4 linked regions of the Homo sapiens genome follow. The protein of the gene in region 1 interacts with the protein of each later gene in a biochemical or structural test. Each region holds a gene or a part of one and is shown in the gene's direction. Other genes may lie near its edges. The genes, in order: VDR, MED1, HR and POU2F1.

Region 1 (7,233 bases):
TGCAGTGAGCCGAGGTGGTGCCACTGCACTCCAGCCTGGATAATAGAGCGAGAGTCTGTGAAAGAAAGAAAGAAAGAAAGAAAGAAAGAAAGAAAGAAAGAAAGAAAGAAAGAAAGAAAAAGAAAGAAGGAAGGAAGGAAGGAAGGAAGGAAGGAAGGAAGGAAGGAAGGAAGGAAAGAAGGAAGGAAGGAAGGAAGGAAGGGAAAGGAAGGGAGAGAAAAGAAAGAATTGTAAGACATGGACCCTGCCCTTAAGTAACTTGTAATCTAGAGAAAGAGACCTTGAACTTCTTGGGCTCCGTCTATAGGTAATGAATTGAAAACTGTGCTAACCATGAGTCTTACAGAGCAGAAGATAATTGGGTGTCAATGTGTGTGGGAAAGACTAAATATGTAGCAGGCATAGGAAATGAGGCTCAGCAGAAAAAAACAAGGCTTGATGCAGATCAGGGCAATCAAGAAATGCTTCATGGAAAAAGATGGCTATGATGTAGGCACTGAAGAACTGGTAGAACTCATACAGGTTTGGGGGAGAGAAAACCCAGCTGGACGGGCACCTAGCACAACTGGAAATGCAGGGGCGAGCATGAGCAGGTCATGTTCCCAGGCCAGCAGCAATGCCAGCATGCCCAGAACAGAGGCTGTGTCCAGAAGCACTAAGACATGAAGTCTGAAAGTTAGGAAGAGGCCAACTTTAGTTTGGACGTGGTCATCAGTAGGGGCCGAGAAAAGTATCTGGGCAGGAGAATGGCATCACAGAATCACTGGAAAGTTAGCAAAGTCCAGTCAGGCTGAGCTACGTGCCTGTAGACACCATGGTGTGGCTGGCAGAAACAGGTCTCCCTAACTCTGGTCCCCAGGTGAGCAGGAAAGACAAGACACCTAATCTTGGGCTCCCCAAGCGAGGGCTTACCCCCATTGCCTTCCCTGGATGCTCCCTGCCCCTTCCTCTCCCACCCTGCCTGACCTGGTAGGGTCTGTGCAGACACCCACTGTGGGAGGAGAGTTGGCAGCTGTTTGGGCAGGTGAGTCAGTCACCTGGGTGTGGTCTACTCCCAGGCTCCCTGTGGAGGGAAGCACCATCTCTTGCAGTAGCGCTCGCTTTCCTGCCATGCCTGTGGCATTGGCTGTCCACTCCCTCCCAGCATAGGCTCTTCCTCACCCCACAGCAACTTCTCTCGTCCTCCCCCTACCTGAGGGCCTGGGCCAATGGACCTTTCTCAAAGCCTGGAACTCACCCACCCTGGGCTTCTGGTTCCTTTCTCTGCTCTTGTGAAACTCCCCAGTTCTGTGGGCAGATGCCCTGGCAGCAGCAGCACCAAGCAAGTAGCTACAGGCCAAAGGCCCTGGTGCCCACTCCTGCCGTCAGCACTCAGCAAGCCACAGCCAGGAGGTCTGTTTGCCCAGCCGCCGTGCCAGGCACCTTTGCTCCCAGCATCCCCTCCACCCCCACAGCTGCCCCAGCACAGGGAGGCAGGCAGAAGCCTGCAGGTGGTGGTGGGGCTCTCTATGGCCCCACACCCTGATTAGTGGCTGGAGAGAACTTCTAAGATTAGAGCTGCAAGGCCTCACCCTTTGGGGCCTTCAAGAGGACTTGAAAACTTCCATGGACAGAAATGTCAAGGCTGTACATGCTGGAGGAGGGGTGGTTTTGCAGAGAACCAAAGAGGTCTAGTCTTTCTATATTCCACAGTCCCATGTCTGGAAACCTGGATGTGGAGACAGCCACATAGAGGAGTCCTCTCCACATCTCACTTCCAGCGCTATGAGAGCTCTGGCATCCTCTCTTCACCCTGATATCTTCTTCAGGATCATGGAACATCAGGGTAGGGAAGAGAAGAGAACTAACATTTAGTGAGCATCTGCTCTGGGCCAGGCATGCATCCAGTTCTCAAATCAGTTGATCCTTTGAGGCAGGTATTATTACTTCCCCCACCTGCATGTCAACACACACAGACACACACACACACACTTTATGGAGGAAGGTACAAGAAAGGAACCTTGGAAGAACTTACATGGTCCAAATCTCTCATTTTACAAACAAAAGAACAAAAGCCCAGAGAGTTTGCCCAAGGTCCCACAACTTGTTCTTGAGAACCCCGACTCCCTAAAGCCCAGATCATCCCCCCTCTCAAATCCTCTTTTTCTTCTTCTTGCATGTGCCTTCCTTTTCACCATAGCAAACCCAATTTTTCTTCACACAGTGGAGTGGGAGTCTCCGTGGCAGGAGGACCCCCGAGGGAGCCCCGAGTGTTAAAGCCCCTCCTATCTTGGACCTTTACCCCCAACCGCAGGAGGAAGGTTTCCTGGAGGAGCTGCTGGCCAGCCCTCCTGACTCCCCTTCCCACCCCACAGTCATTCTGACAGATGAGGAAGTGCAGAGGAAGCGGGAGATGATCCTGAAGCGGAAGGAGGAGGAGGCCTTGAAGGACAGTCTGCGGCCCAAGCTGTCTGAGGAGCAGCAGCGCATCATTGCCATACTGCTGGACGCCCACCATAAGACCTACGACCCCACCTACTCCGACTTCTGCCAGTTCCGGGTATGTCTGCCTGCTGGGAGGATGAGCCGGTCCAGAGGAGAAGCACTAGTGGAGCCAGGGCCCAGGGAGTAGGGACAGAGGGCAGGGGACATCCTGAACAGAACTGGGGTAGGGACGGAGGCTGCTCTGCCCCTGGCACTGGGAGGCTTCGCCTTCCTGTAGACCTTCCTCAAAGCCATTCCTATCAGAGATCAGGGCCAAGGTAGGAAGGCAACCCCAAAATGTGGGTCTGAGACCCCATCTTTCCCTTCCAGCCTCCAGTTCGTGTGAATGATGGTGGAGGGAGCCATCCTTCCAGGCCCAACTCCAGACACACTCCCAGCTTCTCTGGGGACTCCTCCTCCTCCTGCTCAGATCACTGTATCACCTCTTCAGGTAAGCAGGACTTCAGTCCTCCATAGAGTAAGGGAGCGGGGGCGAGGAGTCCACCGCACCTGCCCTGGGGCTGCTGGATGGAAGGAGGTGGAAGGCTCCCTAATGGAAACTTACATAAATACTGTGCGCTATGCAGCGTCTTCACAACAGCCCCTCTGTTACAGAAAGGGGTGACTTACCCAAGGGCCCACACTGGGGAAGAGGCCAAGCTGGGATTCCAGCTGTGTAGCATCAGCCTCCCGGGCCCATGCTGTTTCCTCTAAGCCAGGCTTCAGCCCATGGCCCCCTCCGTGGAGGTGACCTGCTTCCTTTACGTGATATTTTAATCCTGGGCCCTTCAGAAGGTGAAATTTGGAGTGGGAAGGTGAACGTGTTGGTCCTATTGAGGTCCACCTTCCACTTGAGCTCTGGGGACCACTCTGGCCCTGGAGGACCTGTCCCCTCCAGCTCAGCTGAGAGTCTGGGAGGCATCATGCTTTCCTTCCTTTCTTTTTTTTTTTTTTTTTAAAAAAAACACATATGTATATTTAGAAAAGAAATTGTGCTGTATACAATCTGATGACTTGCTTTTTTTTATATGGCATTGTTTTTCCATACCAGTTAGTACGCATCCAGAATATAATTTTTAAGGGCTGCATAGTATTCTGGAATACAATAATGTACCTAATCCCCTACCATTGGATATCTGGATTATTTCTCAGCATTTTAATAAGAAAACAGTATACTTGTAGCCAAATATTTACACTTATCGGAAATTTTCCCTTACAATGAATTCCAGGAAGTGTGACTACTGGTCAAAGAGTACACACAATTATTTGACTAATGTCAAATAGCTTTCTAGAGTACCTTCAGTAATGTGCACCTCCTTTAGCACCCCAGCCCTCATAGGCATTGCCTAATTTCCTGCATCTTTATAAATACTGGCATCAATATTTAAACATTTTTGTTTCTGGTTTGTAGGTGAAAATTATAGATGTTCTACACTGCAGTTCTTTGACCATTAGCAAGGTTGAACATTTTTTTCCATGACTTGATGGGTCCCAAATTCTTTCTTGATTGAGATCCATAGGAACAGCACACAGTCTGCTTGAGGAAGTCTCATTGCTCTGAGTGTCTCTGGCTCTTTGATTTTACTGCCTTATGCTGCTGAAAGAGGCAGAGAGAGTCCCAGAGGGAAGCCTGGGGCTGAAGGGTGACCTGTGGAGTCACTGTGGGATTCCCAGCTGGCTCTGCTGCCAGGGCACACCAGGTTTTTGCAGGGTCTGGCAGGAGGGGGCCTGGTCCAAGTATCCTTAAATAGCTCCTTCTCTTCCCTCATCTCTCCCAGACATGATGGACTCGTCCAGCTTCTCCAATCTGGATCTGAGTGAAGAAGATTCAGATGACCCTTCTGTGACCCTAGAGCTGTCCCAGCTCTCCATGCTGCCCCACCTGGCTGACCTGGTCAGTTACAGCATCCAAAAGGTCATTGGCTTTGCTAAGATGATACCAGGATTCAGGTAAGAAACTTCTGCAATCTCTGGGGAACAGAGTCAGAGTCCTAGACTGAGCTACAAGAAGGGTTGGAGATCACTCATCCACCACTTCTTTTTTTTATTTTTTATTTTTTTAAACGGCATCTTGCTCTGTCACGCAGGCTGGAGTGCAGTGGCGCGATCTCGGCTCACTGCAACCTCCGCCTCCTAGGTTCAAGCGATTCTCCTGCCTCAACCTCCCAAGTAGCTGGGATTACAGGCACCAGACACCACGCCCGGCTAATTTATTTATTTATTTATTTATTTATTTATTTTTATTTTTTTTCCAGACAGATTCTCGCTCTGATGCCCAGGCTGGAGTGCAGTGGCACTATCTTGGCTCACTATAACCTCCGCCTCCCGGGTTCAAGTGATTCTCCTGCCTCAGCCTCCTAAGTAGCTGGGATTACAGGTGTGGGCCACCAAGCCCGGCTAATTTTTATAATTTTAGTAGAGACGGGGTTTCACCACGTTGGCCAGGCTGCTCTCGATCACCTGACCTCGTGATCCAACCACCTTGGTCTCCCAAAGTGCTGGGATTACAGGCATGAGCCATCGCGCCCTGCCCTAATTTTTTTATTTTTAGTAGAGACGGAGTTTCGCCATGTTGGCCAGGCTTGTCTCAAACTCCTGACCTCAAGTGATCCACCCACCTCAGCCTCCCAAAGTGCTGGGATTACGGGCATGAGCCACAGCAGCCAGCCTCCATTGCTTCTTTAAAATAGAGATTCAGACCCTACCCTAGACCTGCGAAATCAGAATCTCTGGCGTAGGCCCAGAAATCTGTATTTAGAAAGTGCAGCCTGTCTTGCGTTACTCTGCAGGCCAGCACTGGAGAGCTAGTCCATCCCCGCACTTTCTGGATGATGGTGTGGAAGCCCAGAGAGGTCCAATGGCCAGCCAGGATCCCTTCCAGGTGTTGGAGCCAGCATGTCAGAGCCAGGCCTAGAACTCCCAGCTCACTGCTGTGTTCACTCCAGCTGGCTTGACTGGAATCCTCATATTATCTCTTTAAATTCAACGATATGATTCCTCCACACCCCAACTCTGAGAGCAGAATGAAGTGATAGAGAGAAGGGCTTGGCCATGTAGACTTGTGAAACAGTCTAGGAATCCTGGAGAGAGATAGGTTTACTGGCATATATGACCCTGGCATCCTTCACCAAAATGTACATTTAAAGACCATTTCCTGGCTGGGCACAGTGGCACATGCCTATCCCAACACTTTGAGAGACTGAGGTAGGAGGATTGCTTCAGCCCAGGAGTTCCAGACCAGCCTGATCAACATAGTGAGACCTCTTCTCTACAAAAAAAAAAAATTATAAATTAGCCAGGTGTGGTTGCACATGCCTGTAGTCCCACCTACTAGGGAGGCTGAGGCAGGAGAATCACTTGAGCCCAGGAGGTCAAGGCTACAGTGATCCATGATTTCACCACTGCACTCCAGCCTGGGCAACAGAGCAAGACCCTGTCTCAAAAAAGAAAAAAATAAAGACCATTTCCTAACCATACTGATACATTTTTGCCAAAATATATAAGTATAAGGAGTTCTACTGGAGAAGGGATCCTCCTTTATCAATTCATTCATATAAATTTCATTCATTTATTCCTATGTTTCATTGTTTTAACACTAGTACTGTATATAATACTTATATTTAAATACTCATGCAGTGTTAATTTTTTTTTTCTTTTTTGAGACGGTTTCGCTCTTTTCACCTAGGCTGGAGTGCAATGGCGCGATCTCAGCTCACTGCAACCTCCGCCTTCCAGGTTCAAGCAATTCTCCTGCTTCAGCCTCCCAAGTAGCTGGAACTACAGGAGCGTGCCACCATGCCTGGCTAATTTTTTGTATTTTTTTTGAGACAGAGTTTCCCTCTTGTTGCCCAGGCCGGAGTACAATGACGCGATCTCAACTTACTGCAACCTCTGCCTCCTGGGTTCAAGCAATTCTCCTGCCTCAGCCTCCTGAGTAGCAGAAATTACAGGCACGCACCACCACGCCTGGCTAGTTTTGTATTTTTAGTAGTAGAGTTGGGGTTTCACCATCTTGGCCAGGCTGGTCTTGAACTACTGACCTCAGGTGATCTGCCAGCCTCAGCTTCCCAAAGTGCTGGGATTACAGGCATGAACCACCACGCCCGGCCAATATTCTTTTTTTTTTTTTTTTTAATTGAGGCAGAGTCTCGCTCTGTCGCCTAGGCTGGAGTGCAGTGGCATGATCTCGGCTCACTGCAAGCTCCGCCTCCCGGGTTCACGCCACTCTCCTGCCTCAGTCTCCCGAGTAGCTGGGATGACAGGCGCCCGCCACTACGCCCGGCTAATTTTTTTGTATTTTTAGTAGAGACAGGGTTTCACCGTGTTAGCCAGGATGGTCTTGATCTCCTGACCTCGTGATCCGCCTGTCTCGGCCTCCCAAAGTGCTGGGATTACAGGCATGAGCCACTGCCGGCCAATATTCTTAAAACAATAGAGTATTGACACATTTAATAGATGTGTTGGGAAATGGCTATATTTATGTATATTTGTATCTTCATTCTTCCCCAAAGTTCATTTGGTATATTGCCATAAAATACATAAACAATATGGTTGAGAAAGAGAAGTAAATCAATCTCAAGCAATGTTATTGTCTTTCAAGTAGCAGCAATAGCTGTATTTACGGCAGAAGGGGCAAAATGCTTCCTAGATACTAATGCTCAGATTCAGTGCTGGAATATGGGGAGCTGGAAAATGAGTTAACATTGCCGGCTCTGGATGGAAACAGATTATGAGGTGCCATATATTGGTGTATGGCCCTCTTAGCTGTGT
Region 2 (7,233 bases), on another chromosome or scaffold:
GGAGACCAGCCTGACCAACATGGTGAAACCCTGTCTCTACTAAAAATACAAAAATTACCCAAGCATGGTGGTACGCGCCTGTAATCCCAGCTACTCAGGAGGCTAAGGCAAGAGAATTGCTTGAACCCGGGAGGAGGAGGTTGCAGTGAGTCAAGATTGCGTCACTGCACTCCAGTCTGGGTGACAGAGCGAGACTCCATCTCAAAAAAAGAAAAAAAGTACTTTTGAATAAATAAGTAAATGAGCAACTCATAAGAAGAGATATAAACGATCTGACCTGAGATAATCAGCTTACTCATTGTTTAAAAAGTGTAGAAGGATGGGCCTGGTAGTTTATGCCTGTAGTCCTAGCTACTTGGGAGGTTTGGGCGGGAGGATTGCTTGAGCCCAGGAGTTTGAGACTGTAGCATACCATGATCGTGCATGTAAATAGTCATGGTACTCCAGCCTGGGCAACGTAGTGAGTTACTGATCAAAAAAAAAGTGAAGTTTTCTAAATTAAAGAACTATGGTAATGGACATTATTTTCTGTTTGCCCTTGATACAAGAAAAGATAAAGAGAGATAGACTGCCGGGCGCGGTGGCTCATGCCTGTAATCCCAGCACTTTGGGAGGCTGAGGTGGGCGAATCACCTGAGGTCAGGAGTTCGAGACCAGCCTGACCAACATGGAGAAACCCTGTCTCTACTAAAAATACAAAATTAGCCAGGCGTGATGGCCCATGCTTGTAATCCCAGCTACTCAGGAAGCTGAGGCAGGAGAATCGCTTGAACCTGGGAGGCGGAGGTTGCAGTGAACCGAGATTGTGCCATTGCACTCCAGCCTGGGCAACAAGAGCAAAACTCTGTCTCAAAAAAAAGTGAAATGGACTAATACCTCCTTAGGTCCCTTTGTAGCTTCACTCATTGACTCCATCCCTTTATTGTTTGTTTGTTTGTTTGTTTATTTATTTATTTAAGATGGAGTCTCACTCTGTCACCCAGGCTGGAGTGCAGTAGTGCGATCTCAGCTCACTGCAACCTACACCTCCTGGGTTCAAGTGATTCTCCTGCCTCAGCCTCCCAAGTAGCTGGGACTACAGGCATGCACCACCACACCCGGCTAATTCTTGTATTTTTAGTAGAGATGGGGTTTCACTATGTTGGCCAAGCTGGTCTTGAACTCCTTACCTGAAGTGATCCACCTGTCTTGGCCTCCGAAAGTGCTAGGATTACAGGTGCGAGCCTTGGCGTCAGGCTCCTTTATTGTTATTATAATTTGGCATGGGGGACGGGGTAGGTCTCACTGTGTTGCCCAGGCTGGCGTACAGTGATTTGATCACAGCTCACTACAGCCCCCGAAGTCCTGGGCTCAAGCCATCCTCCCGCCTTGGCCTCCCAAAGTGCTAGGATTACAGGTGTGAGCCAGTGCACCAGCCTGTCCTTTTATTATGATCCTACTTAAATGCATTCTGAAGAAAAAATAAGTAAATATTGATACTGAACCCTTCAAAAATGATGTTTTTGGACTGCATTGTTTCTTGTGTTTTATTTACTGACAAAAATTATTGGTTGATTAGAAAGGTAACTTCCAGGATTTCTAATTTTTTTTTTTTTTTTCCCCAGACAGAGTCTCACTCTGTCGCCCAGGCTGGAGTGCAGTGGTGCGATTTCGGCTCACTGCAACCTCCGCCCCCCAGGTTCAAGTGATTCTCCTGCCTCAGCCTCCTGAGTAGCTGGGATTACAGGCGCCTGTCACCACACCTGGCTAATTTTTGTGTTTTTAGTAGAGATGCGGTTTCACCGTCTTCTGCAGGCTGGTCTTGAACCCCTGACCTTGTGATCCACCCGCCTCAGCCTCCCAAAGTGCTGGGATTACAGGCATGAGCCATCACACCTGGCCTGATTTCTAAGTTTTATAGGAACTACAGGCCGTGCCTGGTGGTTCATGCCTGTAATTTCAGCACTGTGGGAGGCTGAGATGGGTGGATCAACTTTAGGCCAGGAGTTTGAGACCAGCCTGGCCAACCTGATGAAACCCCCATCTCTACAAAACATACAAAAAAATTAGCCAGGCATGGTGGTGCATTCCTGTAATGCCATGTACGTGGGAGGCTGAGGCATGAAAATTTCTTGAACCTGGGAGGTGGAGATTGCAGTGAGTCGAGATCACACCACTGCATTCCAGTCTGGACAGAGTGAGACTCTGCCTCCAATAAAAAAATAAATAAATAGGCTGGGCGCAGTGATTCACACCTGTAATCCCACCTGTAATCCTAGTCCTTCGGGAGGCCAAGATGGGCGGATCATGAAGTCAAGAGATCGAGACCATCCTGACCAACATGGTGAAACCCCATCTCTACTAAAAATACAAAAAATTAGCCGGGCATGGTGATGGGCGCCTGTAGTTCCAGCTACTTGGGTGGCTGAGGCAGGAGAATGGTGTGAACCCAGGAGGTGGAGCTTGCAGTGAGCTGAGATTGCGCCACTGCACTCCAGCCTGGGTGACAGAGCAAGACTCTGTCTCAAAATAAATAAATAAATACATAAATAAATAAATAAGGGAATAACAGCATCTGATAAATTATAGCTGACAAATATTGCAAAAATTAACCTCTTAAAACATACTGTGATTCCCATCATTTGTATTACTTTGAGGAATACCCTTTTTCTTTCCTATCCCCAGTTTCTCGATCTTTGGGCATGAATGCATCAGTGACAATTGAAGGAACATCTGCTGTGTACAAACTCCCAATTGCACCATTAATTATGGGGTCACATCCAGTTGACAATAAATGGTAAGTTAAATATAATTTTAGAGTAGCAAAGTCAATTTTTCTCAAAGCGCAGTATGTAACAAGTTTTAACCTGGCTGTTACCCCACTTGAATTTCTAGAGGTTGGCCTTTTGTTTTATCCATTCATTGGTTTCTCTTTTGTTTGATATCTGAGTGTTCCTCTCCAAAGTCGGCTCGTAGAACACATTCTCTGCACTGAAAGGGAAAGAAGAGAACTGTGCTAATTCCTCTGGCTTAATGAGTGCCCCCTTTTATCTTACGTTCATTAGTTACATTGGAGTAATAACTGGAGAACATGCCTCAGGATAAATGTTTGATTAAATTCTACAGTGTTAACCAATAGCATGTCTGGGAATTGGGGGTAGGAAGTTTCACAGAGTGAGCTTTTGAGAGTTTGTACTTATGTGTCTGTGTGATACATACATGTTTAAGAATAGGTGTTTGTGGCCAGGCATGGTGGCTCACGCCTGTAATCCCAGCACTTTGGGAGGCTGAGGCAAGTGGAACACCTGAGGTCAGGAGTTCAAGACCAGCCTGGCCAACATGGTGAAACCCCATCTCTACTAACAATACAAAAATTAGCCGGGCGTGGTGGCGGGCACCTGTAGTCCCAGCTACTCACGAAGCTGAGATAGGAGAATCCCTTGAACCCGGGAGGCAGAGGTTGCAGTGAGCCAAGATCACGCCATTGCACTCTAGCCTGGGCATTAAGAGGGAAAATCTGTCTCAAAAAAAAAAAAGGTGTTTGGGTTTTTCATTTTTATATCAAGTCAGAATCCAACCCTTCCACCCTCTTTTTTTTGAAGGACCCCTTCCTTCTCCTCAATCACCAGTGCCAACAGTGTTGATCTTCCTGCCTGTTTCTTCTTGAAATTTCCCCAGCCAATCCCAGTATCTAGAGCATTTGTTCAGAAACTGCAGAACTGCACAGGTGAGTTTTGAGCATCAGGATCTAGTACTTGTTATAAATGTGAAAAAGAAACTTCAAAGTCAGGTTATCATGACGTCTTTCAGTCTTACATGCCTCATTGAAGTATTACTGGTAAAGATGTTATAGTGCTTTGTACTAGTAAATGCTTAGTAAGTACTCTTTTGGGTGAATGAATGTAGATATCAAGGGGAAACTGAGCTGTCAGTGTTTTCATCTTAACATGATCATTATATTGATTCTTGTTTTTCCAGGAATTCCATTGTTTGAAACTCAACCAACTTATGCACCCCTGTATGAACTGATCACTCAGTTTGAGCTATCAAAGGACCCTGACCCCATACCTTTGAATCACAACATGAGATTTTATGCTGTAAGTAAAGCCCTAGGGAGCTAGAATGTTGTAGGTTATGTTTGGACCCAAGATCATAATCTTCCTTTATAGCATTATTGAGGTCAGATAAGTTTCTTCAAGACTGCTGGATCATGTCCTATTTCTTTAGTAAGGCAGGAAATTACAGAAATCTCAGAAATGGGCTGGGCGCGGTGGCTCACACCTGTAATCCCCGCACTTTAGGAGGCCAAGGCAGGCGGATCGTGAGGTCAGGAGTTCGAGACCAGCCTGGCCAACATAGGGAAACCCTGTCTCTACTAAAAATACAAAAAATTAGCCGTGTGTGGTGGCGGGTGCCTGTAATCCCAGCTACTCGGGAGGCTGAGGGAGGAGAATGGCTTGAATCTGGGAGGCAGAGGTTGCAGTGAGACAAGATTGTGCCATTGTGCTCCAGCCTGGGTGACAGAGCGAGACTCTGTCTCAAAAAAAAAAAAAAAAAAAAGAAATCTCGGAAATGTATTGAAGTAAAAGGGCATGAGCTTCCATTAGGAAACAACAATGTACAGTTCTTTGTTGAAATTTTGGGTGATTGGCCAGGTGCAGTGGCTCACACCTGTAATCCCAGGAATTTGGGAGGCCAAGGCGGGTGGTCACTAGAGATCAGGAGTTTGAGACCAGCCTGGATAACATGGTGAAACCCCGTCTCTACTAAAAATATAAAAATTAGCTGGGTGTGGTGGAACATGCCTGTAATCCCAGCTACTTGGGAGGCTGAGGCAGGAGAATCACTTAACCCGGGAGGCAGAGGTTGCAGTGAGCCAAGATTGCGCCACTGCACTCCAGCCTGGGCAACAAGAGCGAAATTCCGTCTCAAAAAAAAAAAAAAAAAAAAAAAACGAGGCTGGGCGTGGTGTTTCACATGTCTAATCCCAGCAGCACTTTGGGAGGCCGAGGCAGGTGGATCACGAGGTCAAGAGATCGAGAGCATCCTGGCCAACAGGGTGAAACCCCATCTCTACTAAAAAAATACAAAAATTAGCTGGGTGTGGTGTCATGCACCTGTAGTCCCAGCTACTCGGGAGGCTGAGGCAGGAGAATTGCTTGAACCCGGGAGACGAAGGTTGCAGTGAGCCAAGATCGCACCACTGCGCTTCAGCCTGGCAACAGAGCAAGACTCCGTCTCAAAAAAATAAAAAAGAAAAAGAAATTTTGGGTGATAGACTTTTTTTTTTTTTTTTGAGACGGAGTCTTGCTGTGTCGCCCAGGCTGGAGTGCAGTGGTGAGATCTCAGCTCACTGCAAACTCCACCTCCCGGGTTCATGCCATTCTCCTGCCTCAGCCTCCTGAGTAGCTGGGACTACAGGCGCCTGCCACCATGCCTGGCTAATTTTTTGTATTTTTAGTAGAGACGGGATTTCACCATGTTAGCCAGGATGGTCTCGATCTCCTGACCTCGTGATCCGCCCGCCTCGGCCTCCCAAAGTGCTAGGATTGCAGGCGTGAGCCACCTTGCCTGGCGGGGTGACAGACTCTTAATGGTATTTTGAACTTTTAGAATATCATAATTAGGTGTTATAAATTCTTACTGTTTAATTCTTTCAAGTGCCATGAGCTTAGAATCTGGAAAGATCCTGAAAGTACTTACAGAGAGGAAAATGCTGGAAGCAGTAATTAAGAGGCTGGGCACAGTGACTCACACCTGTAATCCCAGCACTTTGGGAGGCCAAGGCAAGGCAGATCACTTGAGCTCAGGAGTTCAATACCAGCCTGGGCAACGTGGCAAAATCCTCTCTTTTTTATTTTTTTATTTTTTGAGATGGAGTCTAGCTAGCTCTGTTGCCAGGCTGGAGTGCAGTGGCGCGATCTCGGCTCACTGCAACCTCCGCCTCCCAGGTTCAAGTGATTCTCCTGCCTCAGCCTCCTGAGTAGCTGGGACTGTAGGTGTGCACCACCATGCCCAGATAATTTTTGTATTTTTAGTAGAGACGGGGTTTTACCATGTTGGCCAGATTGGTCTTTATCTCTTGACCTTGAGATCCACCCTACTCCGCCTCCCAAAGTGCTGGGATTACAGGCGCAAGCCACCTTGCCTGTCCTTTTCTTTTCTTTTTTCTTTTTTTTTTTTTTGCTCTTGGTGCCCAGGCTGGAGTGCAGTGGCACGATCTCGGCTGACTGCAACCTCTGCCTCCCAGGTTCAAGCGATTCTTCTGCCTCATCCTCCGGCAAAATCCTGTCTCTACAAAAAAAAAATACAAAAATTAGGCTGATGTGGCCGGGAGCGGTGGCTCACGCCTGTAATCCTAGCACTTTGGGAGGCCGAGGCGGGCAGATCATGAGGTCAGGAGATCGAGACCATCCTGGCCAACATGGTGAAACCCCGTCACTACTAAAAAACACAAAAAATTAGCTGGGTGTGGTGGCGGGCGCCTGTAGTCCCAGCTACTTGGGAGGCTGAGGCAGGAGAATGGCGTGAACCCGGGAGGTGGAGCTTGCAGCGAGCAGAGATCGTGCCACTGCACTCCAGCCTGAGCTACAAGAGCAAGACTCTGTCTCAAAAAAAAAAAAAAAAAAAAATAGGCACATGTGGTTGTTCATGCCTGTAGTCTCAGCTGCTCGGGAAGCTGAGGGGCTTCATCCTGGGAGGTAGAGATTGCAATGAGCCAAGATTGCACAATTGTACTCCATCCTGGGTAATGGGAGTGAAACCCTGTCTCAAAAGTAATAATAATAATAATAAGGGAACGTTCCAAAACCTCATCTGGACTTGTATTTATCTGAATCTTTTACAATAGACTAAAGTAGTGGTTACCAAATTCTGGCTGCATTATTATTATATAGGTGTTTTATTAAAAATAGAGAATTTGCAGCCGGGCGTGGTTGTTTATTCCTGTAATCCCAGCACTTTGGGAGGCCCAGGTGGGTGGATCACGAAGTCAGGAGATGGAGACAATCCTGGCTAACACAGTGAAACACTGTCTCTACTAAAAATACAAAAAAAATTAGCCGGGCGTGGTGGCGGGTGCCTATAGTCGCAGCTACTCAGGAGGCTGAGGCAGGAGAATGGCATGAACTCGGGAGGCGGAGCTTGCAGTGAGCCGAGATCGCACCACTGCACTCCAGCCTGGGCAACAGAGGGAGACTCTGTCTCAAAAAAAAAAAAAAAAAAAAGAGATTTTGCATTTATGGTTTAGGAACC
Region 3 (7,233 bases), on another chromosome or scaffold:
GCCCTCCCTGTGGGGCCCAGTGGGTCCTAAGCCCCTGTGCCCCTCTCTGCAGGATGACCGCATCACCAACATCCTGGACAGCATTATCGCACAGGTGGTGGAACGGAAGATCCAGGAGAAAGCCCTGGGGCCGGGGCTTCGAGCTGGCCCGGGTCTGCGCAAGGGCCTGGGCCTGCCCCTCTCTCCAGTGCGGCCCCGGCTGCCTCCCCCAGGGGCTTTGCTGTGGCTGCAGGAGCCCCAGCCTTGCCCTCGGCGTGGCTTCCACCTCTTCCAGGAGCACTGGAGGCAGGGCCAGGTGAGGCACCCCTCCCCTCCCCTCCCGGCCCTGGCCACCCCACCTGCCCCTCGGGGCCTTGGTCCCTAGGCCCAGACAGACCCAGTGGCTCAGGGGGAGCAGGAGGGCTGTCCCCGAGCTGTTCTACTGCCCTTACAACACGCCCTTGCCTGGCCATGGCGGGCACCCTGGCCATTCTCCTCATGGCCTCCTTCCTTTCCCACCACAGCCTGTGTTGGTGTCAGGGATCCAAAGGACATTGCAGGGCAACCTGTGGGGGACAGAAGCTCTTGGGGCACTTGGAGGCCAGGTGCAGGCGCTGAGCCCCCTCGGACCTCCCCAGCCCAGCAGCCTGGGCAGCACAACATTCTGGGAGGGCTTCTCCTGGCCTGAGCGTAAGTGTCCCCAACACAGGGGAGAGGGAGCTGGGAGCCCAAGCCCTAGGGATCGGGTGGCAGAGGAGTCCCAGGGTGACCCCGAGGGGCTGGAAGCAGGTGTTGCTGCCGCCGGGGCAGGGGCTTCAGGGCTGAGGAGGCCAATGGCCGTTCTGTCTCCTCCTGTAGTTCGCCCAAAGTCAGACGAGGGCTCTGTCCTCCTGCTGCACCGAGCTTTGGGGGATGAGGACACCAGCAGGTGTGTATGTCACCAAGGGCCAGCCCTACCTCCCCGCCACCGCAGGCCCCGCCTGGTTCAGCCCTCCCCTCCTCCTCTGCCCCCAACCCCCACCCCGTGGTCCCTGGTACTCTCATGTTTGCCCTCTGGGAGTTACCCCGGTGGTGGTGGGGCTTTGATGGGGTCTCTGGTGCCCAGGTTGGGCCTGCTGGGCATGACCCCCTACCCTGACAGGGTGGAGAACCTAGCTGCCAGTCTGCCACTTCCGGAGTACTGCGCCCTCCATGGAAAACTCAACCTGGCTTCCTACCTCCCACCGGGCCTTGCCCTGCGTCCACTGGAGCCCCAGCTCTGGGCAGCCTATGGTGAGTGTCCCTCCACTCCTGCCCAGTCTCTACTCCCATGCCTGTCTGCCTGTCATCTCGGGGCACACGAGCGTCTGTGCCAAGGCCCTGGGGCCTGAAGCGCTTCTCTGATTCCATTTCTTTCTTTCTTTTTTTTTTTTTTTGTTGTTGTTGAGACGGAGTTTTGCTCTTGTTGCCCAGGCTGGAGTGCAATGGCACTATCTCGGCTCACCGCAACCTCCGCCTCCCAGGTTCAAGCAATTCTCCTGCCTCAGCCTCCCGAGTAGCTGGGATTACAGGCATGCACCACCACGCCCGGCTAATTTTTTCTATTTTTAGTAGAGAGGGGGTTTCTCCATGTTGAGGCTGGTCTCAAACTCCTGACCTCAGGTGATCTGCCCGCCTGGGCCTCCCAAAGTGCCAGGATTACAGGCGTGAGCAACCGCGCCTGGCTCTCTGATTCCATTTCTAACTGTTCTTTCTCTATTGCCATGCAGGTGTGAGCCCGCACCGGGGACACCTGGGGACCAAGAACCTCTGTGTGGAGGTGGCCGACCTGGTCAGCATCCTGGTGCATGCCGACACACCACTGCCTGCCTGGCACCGGGCACAGAAAGGTAGGTCCTCGGCCAGAGGCAGGAGCGGGGACAAGCTACAGAGGTGAGTGTTTGTCGCCACCAGCCCTGGGCCTGCCTGAGCGCTCTTTCCTCCTCAGACTTCCTTTCAGGCCTGGACGGGGAGGGGCTCTGGTCTCCGGGCAGCCAGGTCAGCACTGTGTGGCACGTGTTCCGGGCACAGGACGCCCAGCGCATCCGCCGCTTTCTCCAGATGGTGAGGAGGCAGCCGGGAGCCCTCCCCTTCCCCCCGCCCAGCCCTAGAAGCTCGTCCAGTCCCACCCCAGTGTGCGGTCCCATGTGCTCGCTCCCTGCCCCACGCCCTCAGGTGAGCTGCACAGACCCAACTCGCACAGACAGGTGCAGAGAAGGCAGAGGGGACCCGGAGTTCTGCCGTGGGGCTCAGAGAAGGGGCAGGGGCTGCGGCAGGAGAGCCTGGACCCGATGATGAAATGAGAGCACCAGCTGCCCGAGGCTGGACGTGGTGCTAGGGCCTTAGGCACAATTATCTGTTACCCGTCTCAGCCCCCCGCCCCATGAGGCAGGCACTGCTCCTTTCCCATTGGCAGATGAGAACACCGAAGCTCAGTGGCAGGGCTGGGATCTGAGCTTCTGTCTGTCATGGCCCCAGGTCACTACTCTATGCTCTTCCTGGAGGCAGGCAGCCTCCTCTGCCTTCTGAGACTCCGTCCGGCTGCCCACCTTTTGGTATTTGCATCTTGTTAGGGGAGACTGCCTGGAGGAGATGCTCCCGGAGGGGCTAGCAAGGAAGGGGGCTGAGGGAAGTGGAGGGAGAGATGGGTCAGGTGAGGAGCCAGGGAAGGGGAAGGTGATGGGGTGGGCTGGAGGCAAGAAGCTTGAGGCGCAGGGGAGGAGAGAGTCCAGGGGTAAGGCGAGGGCAGCCCCGTGGTTCCCAAGTCCAGCTGAGCCCTCATTATCCTGGGGAAAAGACTTCCACCTAGTGTCACCCCTCGCCAAGGCACACACACACACGGAGACGTGCAGAGGCCAGCATGGTGTGCACCCCTCCTGCCCACAGGTACACACATGTGTAGATACACACACAGATGCTGGGACACGCAGAGGGGAGCAGACAAGCACACCTCCACACACAGATGGCCTCTTCTGGGCTGGGTGTGGCTGGCCGTGGGCAGTCACTACGGCCCAACCCAGTGACTCACGGGGCAGGGCTGAGGGGCACAGTCTCCCTGGGTGGCCTGGGAAACACTGCTCAGCTCCAGGATGGAGCTGAATCTCCAAGGGCAAAGGAATCTTGGCACCCAGCTGGGACTCCCCTAGGGTCCAATTTGCTTCACCAGCCTTCCCTTCCCCCACGCCCCATCTTGCAGCCCTAAGCCCAGGGGCAATGGCTGAGGTCCTTGCCAAAGGGGGTGGATTGGGCTGGTGGTGGGTTGGAGCACGATGCTGGCGTCCCCTTTGCACATGTTCCCTGGGCACCTCTGTCCTCTGCGAGTCCCTGCCTGCCCAGAGAGCTCCCTGCTCTGGTTAGGCTTGTGAGGTCCCCGTAGCTGTGGCTGCTGCAGAGGCCTCAGCCTGGCCGGAAAGCCTGTTCACCTGCTGGCACTCAGAGCCTCGCAGTGGTCCTTCCCTTTTCTGCATCCGGAATCTTAGGGAGACCCTGATGAACACTTTGAGTTGTCTCCCCAGGGACACACAGCTCTCTCCTCATCCACCACTTAGCACACAATTCTGGCCATTCCAAAGACTTCAGATGAAGAAGTCCTGGTAGACAGTTTATGAACTGGGATTATGCAGGACGTCTCCCTCGGATTTGCAGAAAGGGGTACCATTGAGAGAGGGAGGAGAGGGGCCGAGGTCACAGAGGCTGTTAAAGGCCTCCAGCCCCAGAAAAGCAGGGATTCAGTCTGCCCAACTGTAGGGCCTTGAATCCCTTCCTTCTAAGCTCCTTCCAGCCAAATGTGTGTTCTGCCAACCTGAGCTGCCCCAGCCCCAAACAAACTCAGCCATGCCCTCCCTGCCTGCCCTTCAAGACTTGACCCTTCGGCTCTTTTCTCCACCCCTGGCCTCTGGAAAGTCCATGCCCCATCCTCCTGCAGCCCTGCCCTTCCCTCCCCATCTCGCTCATTCCCCCTTCTCTTCTTTGAGGTGTGCCCGGCCGGGGCAGGCGCCCTGGAGCCTGGCGCCCCAGGCAGCTGCTACCTGGATGCAGGGCTGCGGCGGCGCCTGCGGGAGGAGTGGGGCGTGAGCTGCTGGACCCTGCTCCAGGCCCCCGGAGAGGCCGTGCTGGTGCCTGCAGGGGCTCCCCACCAGGTGCTTCCCAGCGGGCAGGGGCTCTGCGGGGAGATCAGGATGGCAGAAGCGACCCAATCAAGGCCGCAGGCATCCAACATCCCCTCAATACCCAAGAGCCGGGCAGGGCAGGGAGCCGCACGCTGCTGTGGGGAAGAGATAACGGGGGAGCCAAGAGGCCTTGAAGTCACTGAGCCCAACTGGGACTGGCGCCAGAGTCCACTCCTGGTCTCCTGGGCATGCTGATGTCAGGGGGCTCGCAGGGAGACTTTAGGGTCTCTCCAGCAGTTCTGAGTCCCGGTTTTGGCCACAGGCTTTGAGGTGTCCAGTGGTGCATCCAGGAATCTGCTCTCTGAGAGCCAGGGGTCGGGGGTGGTTGTCATTAGAGGAAGCGAACCTCAGGGACCAGGGGGACAGGGAGAGGATGTGTGATCTTGAGCCTCACTGTCCATGTCCCCCCGACACAGGTGCAGGGCCTGGTGAGCACAGTCAGCGTCACTCAGCACTTCCTCTCCCCTGAGACCTCTGCCCTCTCTGCTCAGCTCTGCCACCAGGGACCCAGCCTTCCCCCTGACTGCCACCTGCTTTATGCCCAGGTGAGTGGGATGTGGGCCAGCAGGCTGGGTGTGCTACCCAAGCCTCCCACCTCCCTGTGCCACAGCTGCAGTGGACATAGCAGATCCCACCCTGTGCCAAGCAGGCAGCCACCCTGTGCAGGGGCAGAGTATTCCTTTTGTTTAGTTTGTTTCATTTTGTTTTTTGAGATGGAGTCTTGTTCTGTCACCTAGGCTGGAGTGCAGTGGCACTATCTCAGCTCCCTGCAACCTCCGCCTCCTGGGTTCAAGTGATTCTCCTGCCTCAGCCTCCCAAGTAGCTGGGACTACAGGCGCCCACCACCATGCCTGGTTAAATTTTTTTGGGATTTTTAGTAGACGTGGGGTTTCACCATGTTGGCCAGACCGGTCTTGAACTCCTGACCTCAAATGATCCACCTACCTTGGCCTCCCAAAGTGCTGGGATTACAGGTGTGAGCCACCGCATCTGGCCAGAGTATTCCTTTTAAGTAGGGTGGGGGACAGCGGGTGGGCCCAGGAATGTAGTTGAAAATGCTTTGTCCTCTCTCTTTTTCCTAGATGGACTGGGCTGTGTTCCAAGCAGTGAAGGTGGCCGTGGGGACATTACAGGAGGCCAAATAGAGGGATGCTAGGTGTCTGGGATCGGGGTGGGGACAGGTAGACCAGGTGCTCAGCCCAGGCACAACTTCAGCAGGGGATGGCGCTAGGGGACTTGGGGATTTCTGGTCAACCCCACAAGCACCACTCTGGGCACAAGCAGGGCACTCTGTTCCCCTCCCCCTTAAGCCAACAACCACAGTGCCACCAAGCTCACACCTGTCCTTCTCAGGCTGGCATCTCCCCCACCCTGTGCCCCTTTTCATGGTACCAGGCCCGCACTGGGGGCAATTGACTTCCTCCAATCCCCACTCCTCCGAGACCCAGGAGACAAACAGCCCTTCCTTGGGGAAACTTGGGAATCATTCTGGCTTAAACAACACCTCCTCCTGCTGCTCACTCCCGCTGAGCCCACTCTACTGCCCCAGCTCCGTTTCTACCACCGCATCCTCACTGGGCTCACTGCAGGCATGCTGAACAAGGGGCCTCCAACCTTCTGCCCTCCTGCCAAAAGATCTGGGGAGTGTGAGGAGAGGGTGGCATCAGGAGCTGCTCAGGCTTGGCGGAGGGAGCGGCATGGGCGATGTCACTCAGCCCCTTCCCGGTCCGCCCGCTTCCCTCCTTCATGATTTCCATTAAAGTCTGTTGTTTTGTGACTGCTGCCAGTGTGGTTGGCCCTGCCCCTGCAGGCCACATGGTCCAGGGAGGGAGGGGGACATGGAAATCTGCCTTAGAGACAAATGGAGTAGGGCAGCCCGGAGCTGGGGCCCAAGGGACAGGACACCACTGCCTGCTCTTCGTCTGGGGCCTGGGGCCTTGCCTCCCACTGAGGAGACTTTGGGTGGGGTGGGGGGCTGTCCCCCAAAGATGCTCCTGAGTGCAAGAGCAGGCAAGGCAGAGTCCTGGGGCACAGCCACGAGGTGACCTCCCTGTGCAGAGACTCCCGAGCCCTACTCCACCCAGCAAGCTCCAGTCCGCCCCATCTCTCCCGTCTACCCTGACCTGGAGATCCAGAAGTATGGCCCAGAAGAGCCCTTGCCCCGCCTGTCTGCCCTTGGTGGCAGTGGCCATGGCCGACGCCAGGCCCAGCCACCCTGGGACTGAGCCTGACTGCTTCAGACAGCCGACCCCTCCTTGTCCCCGCTCCACGCCCGCAGCCTCCTGGTGGCGCTCCGCCCTCTCCCGCTTCCTTTGTGTATCTCAGCCCTACAAAGAAAAACACTCCCACTCTTGTCATACCTAATTGTTCCTGCTGTGGTTTGGGGAATTTTTTTTATTAAATAAAGTTTTTTATTATAAGGGTAATATACTTTCAGAACATTCAGAAAATAAGAAAGTCACCTTCTAGCCCATCATTACACACCTCCAACTACTATGAGTATTTTGGCATATTCCCTCCCAGTGCTTTCCCCAAGGATTTGCTGTGCACATAGCTGGATTGCTGTGTTTTGTCCTTGGTTTCTTTCTTTCGACACCATATCATAATCATTTTCTGTGTTGCTACCTAATCTTCATTTTAAATGACTGCTTATATTCCATTAAGTGGCTTTGCCATGATTTACAAAACTATGCTTTATTTAAAAAAAAAAATGTAGGGCTTCTTTCATTGTTTGGAGAACTCAGTTATTTTCATTTTTTTATGGGATAAAGAGGAGAAAAGAAAAGAAAAAACTGAGAACTCTACAGTTTACTTTGCTTTTGTTTTCATTTAATTTATCTCATCTGGCCAGGCGACGTGGTTCACGCCTGTAATCCTAGCACTTGGGGAGGCAGAGGCGGGTGGATCACTTGAGGTCAGGAGTTCAAGACCAGCCTGGCCAATATGGTGAAACCCTGTCTCTACTAAAATACCAAAAAAAAAAAAAAAAAAAAAAAAAAAAATTAGCTGGGCATGGTGGCAGGCGCCTGTAATCCCAGCTACACGGGAGGCTGAGGCAGAAGAATCG
Region 4 (7,424 bases), on another chromosome or scaffold:
CAGTCTTAACCTTCCAGGCTCAAGTGATCCTCCCACCTAAGCCTCTCAAGTAGCTGGGACTACAGGCATGTGCCACCACATCCAGCTAATTTTTATATTTTCTGTAGAGTCACAGTCTCATATGTTGTCAGGGCTGGCCCTGAACTCCTGGCCTCAAGCAATCCTCCCGCCTCGGCCTCCCAAAACTTGCTTCTTGAAAAAGCATTCCCAGAAATCCCACCAAATTAACTCTTTATAATTCAATAGTCAAAATTTTGTCACACATGGCCACACCTAGCTGCAAGGGAGCCTGTGTGTTGCACTTTAGCAAGACAGATGGAACACATTCCTGTTGACACTTTAGGGCTGTTACTAAGGAACATTCATCCAGTAATGGTAACAGCTAGGCAGAAGTAACCACCACTCCCCTGCACTACTGTGCCATGTGTGTATTTTACTATATGTACAGATTTGTGTTACCACTACCATACTCAGGATACAGAACAACTCCATTAACCACCCCCCTCCTCCAAACTTCCCTTGTGCCTATCCCTTATAATCACATCTTCCCCTGTAACTATCTCCTGGCAAACACTGATCTGTTTTCCATCACTATAGTTTTGTTATCTCATTAATGTCATACAGATGGAACCATATAGTACATGGTATATAACCTTTTGAGACTGGCCTCTTTCAGTCAGCATAATGCCTTTGAGATTCATTGAAGTTGTTGTATATGATAGTAGTTCATTCTTTTCAATTGCTGAGTAGTATTCCATGGTATGAATGTTTTATTCATTCATATGAAAAACATTTGAATTGTTTCTACTTTTTGGCAATTATAATAGTTGCTATTTGTTTCTAAGTGAAGTTAAGTTCTCATCCACATATACCTTTTTATTTGTATTTATTTATTAAAATCATTTTTTTGAGACAGAGTCTCACTCTGTCACCCAGGTAGGAGTGCAGTGGCACCATCATAGCTCACTGCAGCCTCGAACTCCTGCCCTCAAGCAGTCCTCATCCCTCACCTCAGCCTCCCAAGGAGCTAAGGAGCTGGGACCATAGGTGTGTGCCACCACACCCACCTTAACTTTTGGCTTTTTGTAGAGACAGGGACTGTGTTGCCCAGGTTGGTCTTGAACTCCTGGTGTCAAGCAATCCTCCTGCCTCAGTCTTCCAAAGTGGTAGGATTTTAGGTGCAACTACTGCACCTGGCCTACATTTTTATTATGACATTATATACAAGGACATTGTTTGTTAATGTGTTGTTCCCTTCCTATACTGAACTATATGTACCCATATGGTTTAATCTGTGACCCCACCAAATCTCATGTCAAATTATAATCCCCAATTTTGGTTGTGGGGCCTGGAGGGAGGTGATTGGATCATGGGGGTGGATTTCCCCCTTGCTGTTCTGGTGACAGTGAGTTCTCATGAGATCTGGTTAAGTGTGTATCTCACAGCTTGTGGAACTGTGAGCTAATTACACCTCTTTGTAAATTACCCCATCTCAGGTATTTCTTTATAGCAGTGGAAGAACAGACTAATACAGAGGTGTCTGGATCATTGGGGTAGATTTCTCATGAATGGTTTAGCACCATCGCCTTGGTGCTGTCCTCATGACAGTGAGTTCTTGTAAAAGTGTGTGGCACCTGCCCCCCTACCCTTTCTCTTGCTCCTGTTCTCCTGTGTGATGTACAAGCTCCTGCTTGGCCTTCACCACGACTGTAAGCTTCCAGAGTCTTCCCCAGAAACATAGTCCTTCCCAGTGCTATGCTTCCTGTATAGCCTACAGACCCATGAGTCAATTAAACCTCTTTTCTTGTAAGTTACCAAGTGTCAGGTATTTCTTTATAGCAATGCACGAACAGTCTAATACATGTACCTCCAAGATTTTGCCTGACCCAAAGCAAATAACTTAGTGTAGTGGTTAAGAGTACGGTCCCTTGCCTGTGTTTGAATTTTAGCTCTAACACTTAATAGTGGTGTGACACTGGGCAAGTTACTTGACATCTCTATGCCTCAATCTTCCCATCCTAGATAACTGGGATAAAGAGTTTCTACCTCCCAGGGTATTGTAAGGGTTTTTTTTTTTCTTTTTTAAAGTGATATATGTGAGTTTGCTGAGGTTAAAGTAGTGTCTTACACATTTTCCTATCTTTAGCACCTAGTAAGTTCATGAGAATGCAGATGTTTACAATTTTTTATTGAATAAATGACATTAATTTTACAAATAATCCTAACATACATAACTGTATATTCACTATTTTTCTTCAACAAATATGAACACCTACTATGCCCAGGCATTGTGCTAGGCACTGGGGACAGCTGGAAACATAAATAACTCATTAGGAGGAAAATGAAACTTTGATACAGTCTATTTTAAGCTATTTTTGTTCTCACAGAACTATCCTTCCTTAAATAAAAATCCTTTCCATGAAAATTTCCTTTTATAGAAGTGAAACAGTAAAGAATGCATAACACATACACTAGCTTCAATGACTTTCCGAAGGTCATATTAATATACTTTTTGAACCAAAGAGCAAAACTAGGATTAAATAGAAGACAGGAAATTAAATGAGGGTATTTGAGCTCTTTTTCTTAATGGAGATGATTTCAAATTTGTGGTCCCCAGAGCAGGGGCATGTACTTAACTATTTCCAATAAGGTTGTCAATTCTGAGACTTCCCTTACAGTAATGCTGGTGAAAATAACTTAGGCCATATTTCCAGATTAACTAGTTAAATATTTCATTTCCTTAAGTGTGCTGGTTGGCGTGGCTCTAAATAATTAGATTACAGGGCGGTCTAATTATTTGGTTCAAACAGTCATGCACACACCCTAAGGCTTAATTACCACGAACAAATCAATCCCACCCCCAAATCGTTGCCTGTCACTGACAATAGCTTTAACTGTACTTGCACAGTTAAAGGAGTCCAACGAGCATTCTAGGACTGATGATTAAAACTTTACCCATTAAAATAATTGCACTCACTTGGAAATCAGTTTTGTTTTTAATTGTAGAACCAGCAGTTCTACCCAATTTAAACTTCAGTCATATCTCTCAAGACAGATTAACTAGAGCTGATTTTTTTTAAACTTTGCTTACCATGAAATACACCTTTCTATTCTTAAAAAACAAACAAACAAACAAAAATAGGGCTTTAAAAATTCGTAAAATAATTAGACCTGGGACTTTGTCCAGGGAATTTCGCCATTTAAGATAAAGAAAACTCAGCAACATTATGTCTAGTTACCAAGAAAGATATGTGCAACGCGAAACCTTTCCCCAATACCATATTTACTCTGAGAAACACAGCAAAATAAAATTCACGATGAAGTTACGATTTCGACATTTTTATTAGTCATCAGCTTACTGCTAGGTTTTAAAAGGTGTTCCAAGGCGGGAAGAAGGCGCGGGGGGAAGCCTCAGAATATGGGGTCTGTTTCGATTGGGGGGAGCGGCGTTAGAGGGGCGTGAAGGCAGAAAGGAAGGGTAGGGCGGAAATTAGCGACTTAATAAGACGCCTAGCTCCCGAGGAAGCCAGCCTGGCGTTAGAAGCAAGTAGAGCAGAAGAGATTTAGGGCTAATTAAAACAATCACACGACACTCCCCCTCGCGTTTGCCGGGGCCGGGTCTCCTGCACTAGCAGAGCCGGGGGCGGGGATTAGCTCGGATTCAAATTTAAAGCGGGAGGCCCGCGTGTGGCTCAGCAGGTGCCTCATGCCCGGCTCCCGTGGCGGTCGTTTCCGCCCCTACCTGCCCAGAGGGCCGGAAATTACCTAGCGAGGAGCGGCTTATCCATTGTTGCCAATGTTTCAACTGCGCGGAAACCCTGAAGAAAGTGCGGAGCACAGGGCACGCGGGCCGCTCACTGCCCTTCCACGCGCCCCCACGTTTCTGGCCGCTGCGCTCCTTGCCGTGCTTTTACAATGCCACAGGCCACTGGGGGAGACCGGAGCGAAGCCAGGAGGGAAGCAAGGCGGGAGGAAAAGGGAGAAGTGTAAGAAGACACAGGCGCCCGGGATACTATATAATCTGGTTCTGAGCTAGAGGGAGCGCATGCGCCGGCGACACTTCTGGCGGCAGGAGAAAGGCGCGCATGCGCAGAGCCGAGACGAAAAATGAAGCCACAGGGTGCCTGGCTGATTGAGGGCGCTGCTTTAGCTACCGAAGGGCCACAGCGCCCCGAAGGCGCGTGCGCAGAGCGCGGGAAGGGGGTGGAGCTCTTCTGAGGGGGCCGGGGCGAACAGAGCCGGCCTCGCGCGCCCCCTGGCGCGCGCCCGGGGAGAGGAAGGAGCGGGAGGGGGCGGAGAGGAGGGAGGAGGCAAGCAGGGCGGGAGGGGGGAGGGGAGCCAGAGCGAGGGAGGGTTTATCGACCGGGCGATTTTGGTTAAAATATTCAAAATGGCGGACGGAGGAGCAGCGAGTCAAGATGAGAGTTCAGCCGCGGCGGCAGCAGCAGCAGGTAATCATTACAGCATTTTACATATTCATATTCATACTCAACCCCGGCTCCCGCTGCCCCCCCCCGCGACTTAGCATAATTTATTAGTACTCAGGATTATTATAATTAACGGCGGGGAGATGGGGGGCCGGGGAGCATTGAGCCCCCGCCGGGCGCTGAGCGGAGGGGGAAAGAGGCTCGGAGCGGCCAGGCGGAGGGGGAAGACAAGGGGCAAAGGGGGCTGCGATCCACTGCCCTCCTCCTGCACCCGGCCCACCCCGCCGCCGCTCGCCGTCTGCCCGTCGGCACCGGCCCTCCTCCTCTGCCGGCCGCCGCTGCCGCCTCCTCGCCGCCGTGCCCGAACCCGAGCGGGTCCGCGGCGGGGCGGCGGGGCCGGGGCAGAGGGAGAGGACAATAAAGACATTTTACATATTCATAGCTGCTGGGCCGGCGGGGCGCAGTAGGGCGCGGGCGGGCGGCCGGGGCCGGGCGGGCGCGGGGTGGGGGGCGTGAAGGGGGATGGAGGCGGCGGCGAGCACAATGCCGGGGAGGCGGCGGGGCCGGAGCGGACCCCGGCGGCCGGACACCCGCACGCGTCTTCCCCCGGGAGCGGGCCCGGGCGGGGGGGCGCTGCCCGCCTTGGGGGGCGGCCCTCAGGGCAACCGGGGGTGCGCGCGGGGAGAGCTCCCTGCCCGCGCCCCGCGCGGGGCTGAGCCCGGGGGTCACGGCCCCAGGCACTTCGGCCTCGCCCCACTGGTCCCCAATGTGGTGGCCTGACCCAAGCCAGGCCTGCTCTCTAGGTGGGTAGGGGTGAGCGGTCGTGGGCGCTGCGAGGTGGCCTGGGGCGGCGGGGGTGGGGAACCCGCGCAGGGGTCTGCGTGCCCCCCCTGGGGGGTGGACTGGATTGGAAGGAGTCCTTGGGGCAAGTTCCTTCCGAGGGGATGTCCTCTGGGGCGGCCCGCGCGCCCCCGGCCGGCGGTCGGCAGCCCCTTTGCGTTGTCGGCCGGGGCTTCGCGGGCGAGTTGGGCTGGAGGTGCCTGGCGTGGTCTGACCTCCGTCTCCCTTTGCCCCTCCCCGCTGCCCCCCCTCCGTTCCCCCCACCCCCTGCGCCTGACCGGGACGCACGGGGCGGGTGGCCCTCCGGGGCCTCTCGCTCCGAGGCCCCAGAAGCGCCCAGAGGCCTCCCGAGAACTTGGATGTAAAGGGCTGCCCTCCTGCCCCAGAATGGGCTGGCCTGACAAGTTGATCGTATTCTCGATTTCCTCTCTCCTGTTGGGAGTCGGTGGGGAGGGACGGGGATCCCCCTCCCTTCTTCTGTGGCGGTGTTTTCTCGCTGTGTGCTGGGTCGTCTTTACTCTCTGCTTAGCTGAACCTCTTCTCATTTGAATAATGTCTAATTCGGGGAGGTTTATATTATTGAAATGGCCGCCTGGCTTTCCCCGCCTCTCATGTTTAGTAATTCAGACCTTTAATAACAGCCACTCACAGCCCAACGCCGTGTTTATATTTTACATTCGCCCCATGTGCTTTTGTGGTTCGATATGATTTTTTTTTTCCTTGGCAATCCGCAGGGCTCTGAGATCAAACCCAGGCCGTGCTGGGAAGAGAGGGGGGAAGCTGGGCCTTGGCTTCTCTAGCAGTTGCCTAGGCCTCATGTTCTCTGCTGCTTGATTTATTTACTAATAACCAAAATGACTACCTCCACCAACTTCCACACACTTTCCCCTCCTCTGCGGGCAAAACAAACTCTCTTGGGGCTTTACTAGCATTAAAACAGGTCCTAGCTAAGTATCAACTCTGTGATGGTTTGTTTTCTCTTAAAAAGACTTTCTTATACTTTGCAGTAGTATTGGGCCTAGGGGGAAAAATCTGTCCTGTATTTTATTTTCAGAGCCTATGAAATCTATTTTGGTTTAATCCAAATCACTTTGTTTTGGGGATGGGTACCCCGGTTGCTCCCCACCCCCATGTTAAATACTTTAAGGCTTTGTAAAGGTCTGTAGTATTTGTAAAACTGACACTTTTTTTTTCCTCTAGGAGTTGTGGAGTAGCTAAATATTAGAAATTCCAATTAACAACAGTTTCATAATTTCTTGGTGTGGTGCTACCTTTCTGACATCTTCATTCTAATTTAAAATGGAGCTGACGTTAATTTTGTGCTATCATTGTCATAGACTTGCTTATTTTAATTGTAGCACTACTGAAAACAAAAAAATGGGGTTATGTTTTCTTTGAGTATTTGTGTCATGATTAAATGAGTGAAAAGAGAAGAATAAACATAGGCATTGCGTTTACCCTGATCTTGGAACTTATTCTCCTCCCAGCACACCCGCCCCTCCTCTTTAAGTTGTCAGAATTGATGTTATGTTTTATCTAGACTTAGGACAGTTGGCTTGTGAGAGGCAGATTAACTTTTACTGTTTAGAGGAAACAGTAATTTTGATTTTTGGTCTTTCCTGTGGTAAAATTTTCTTTTAACATTTTTATTTTGTGTAGGGGTGTGTGTGAGTGTGAGTGTGACTAGTGTTGCCTGTCACTGGTGGATGTTTACCGCTGCGTAGTCGAGGGAAGTATTAGAGGAGTGGGGTTTAACACTAATGTGTTAAACCTTTGAAATTATGTTAAGACATTTTGGTGAGTGGCTAGCTATGTATTTTGTGGGACTTTGGTCTTCAGTTTAATTTGTAACAAAATTCTAGGTTTGATGGATTAAACGCAAGCTAATTTCAGATAACCAGTTCTCACCATTTTTCTTCTTTCACTCACAGTAGGCAGGCCCTGAATGCAGCAGGAAAAAAAAAAATCTGTAGCTTTTAAGAGAACCTTCAGGTGAATGACTGCTTCAGAGACCTGAAGTATGAGGTCAGATGGACAAAAAGCAGCAATATAATTTCATGCCTTAAATAGCATATGTTTTTGCACCCGATTCCCAAGATGTGGTCAAACTGATGATGTCATTGGACAGAGGACAAGGTGCAGTTAATTTGATTTATT

The links.
Region 2: the proteins of VDR (region 1) and MED1 form a complex in vitro, tested with the Homo sapiens proteins (5 studies listed by BioGRID).
Region 3: the proteins of VDR (region 1) and HR form a complex in vitro, tested with the Homo sapiens proteins (2 studies listed by BioGRID and IntAct).
Region 4: the proteins of VDR (region 1) and POU2F1 form a complex in vitro, tested with the Homo sapiens proteins (one study listed by BioGRID).

The regions. Positions count from the first base shown.
Region 1 is NC_000012.12:47,852,810-47,860,042, reverse strand, and holds part of VDR (vitamin D3 receptor), read left to right. Parts: intron 1-2,354; coding exon 2,355-2,539; intron 2,540-2,793; coding exon 2,794-2,914; intron 2,915-4,241; coding exon 4,242-4,413; intron 4,414-7,233.
Region 2 is NC_000017.11:39,420,170-39,427,402, reverse strand, and holds part of MED1 (mediator of RNA polymerase II transcription subunit 1), read left to right. Parts: intron 1-2,664; coding exon 2,665-2,776; intron 2,777-3,581; coding exon 3,582-3,706; intron 3,707-3,957; coding exon 3,958-4,076; intron 4,077-7,233. UniProt on the Homo sapiens protein: Component of the Mediator complex, a coactivator involved in the regulated transcription of nearly all RNA polymerase II-dependent genes.
Region 3 is NC_000008.11:22,113,778-22,121,010, reverse strand, and holds the end of HR (lysine-specific demethylase hairless), read left to right. Parts: intron 1-52; coding exon 53-295; intron 296-503; coding exon 504-669; intron 670-837; coding exon 838-907; intron 908-1,120; coding exon 1,121-1,251; intron 1,252-1,727; coding exon 1,728-1,847; intron 1,848-1,945; coding exon 1,946-2,061; intron 2,062-3,971; coding exon 3,972-4,136; intron 4,137-4,582; coding exon 4,583-4,711; intron 4,712-5,248; coding exon 5,249-5,311; 3' UTR 5,312-6,592; downstream 6,593-7,233. UniProt on the Homo sapiens protein: Histone demethylase that specifically demethylates both mono- and dimethylated 'Lys-9' of histone H3. May act as a transcription regulator controlling hair biology (via targeting of collagens), neural activity, and cell cycle.
Region 4 is NC_000001.11:167,216,508-167,223,931, forward strand, and holds the start of POU2F1 (POU domain, class 2, transcription factor 1), read left to right. Parts: upstream 1-4,378; 5' UTR 4,379-4,390; coding exon 4,391-4,451; intron 4,452-7,424. UniProt on the Homo sapiens protein: Transcription factor that binds to the octamer motif (5'-ATTTGCAT-3') and activates the promoters of the genes for some small nuclear RNAs (snRNA) and of genes such as those for histone H2B and immunoglobulins.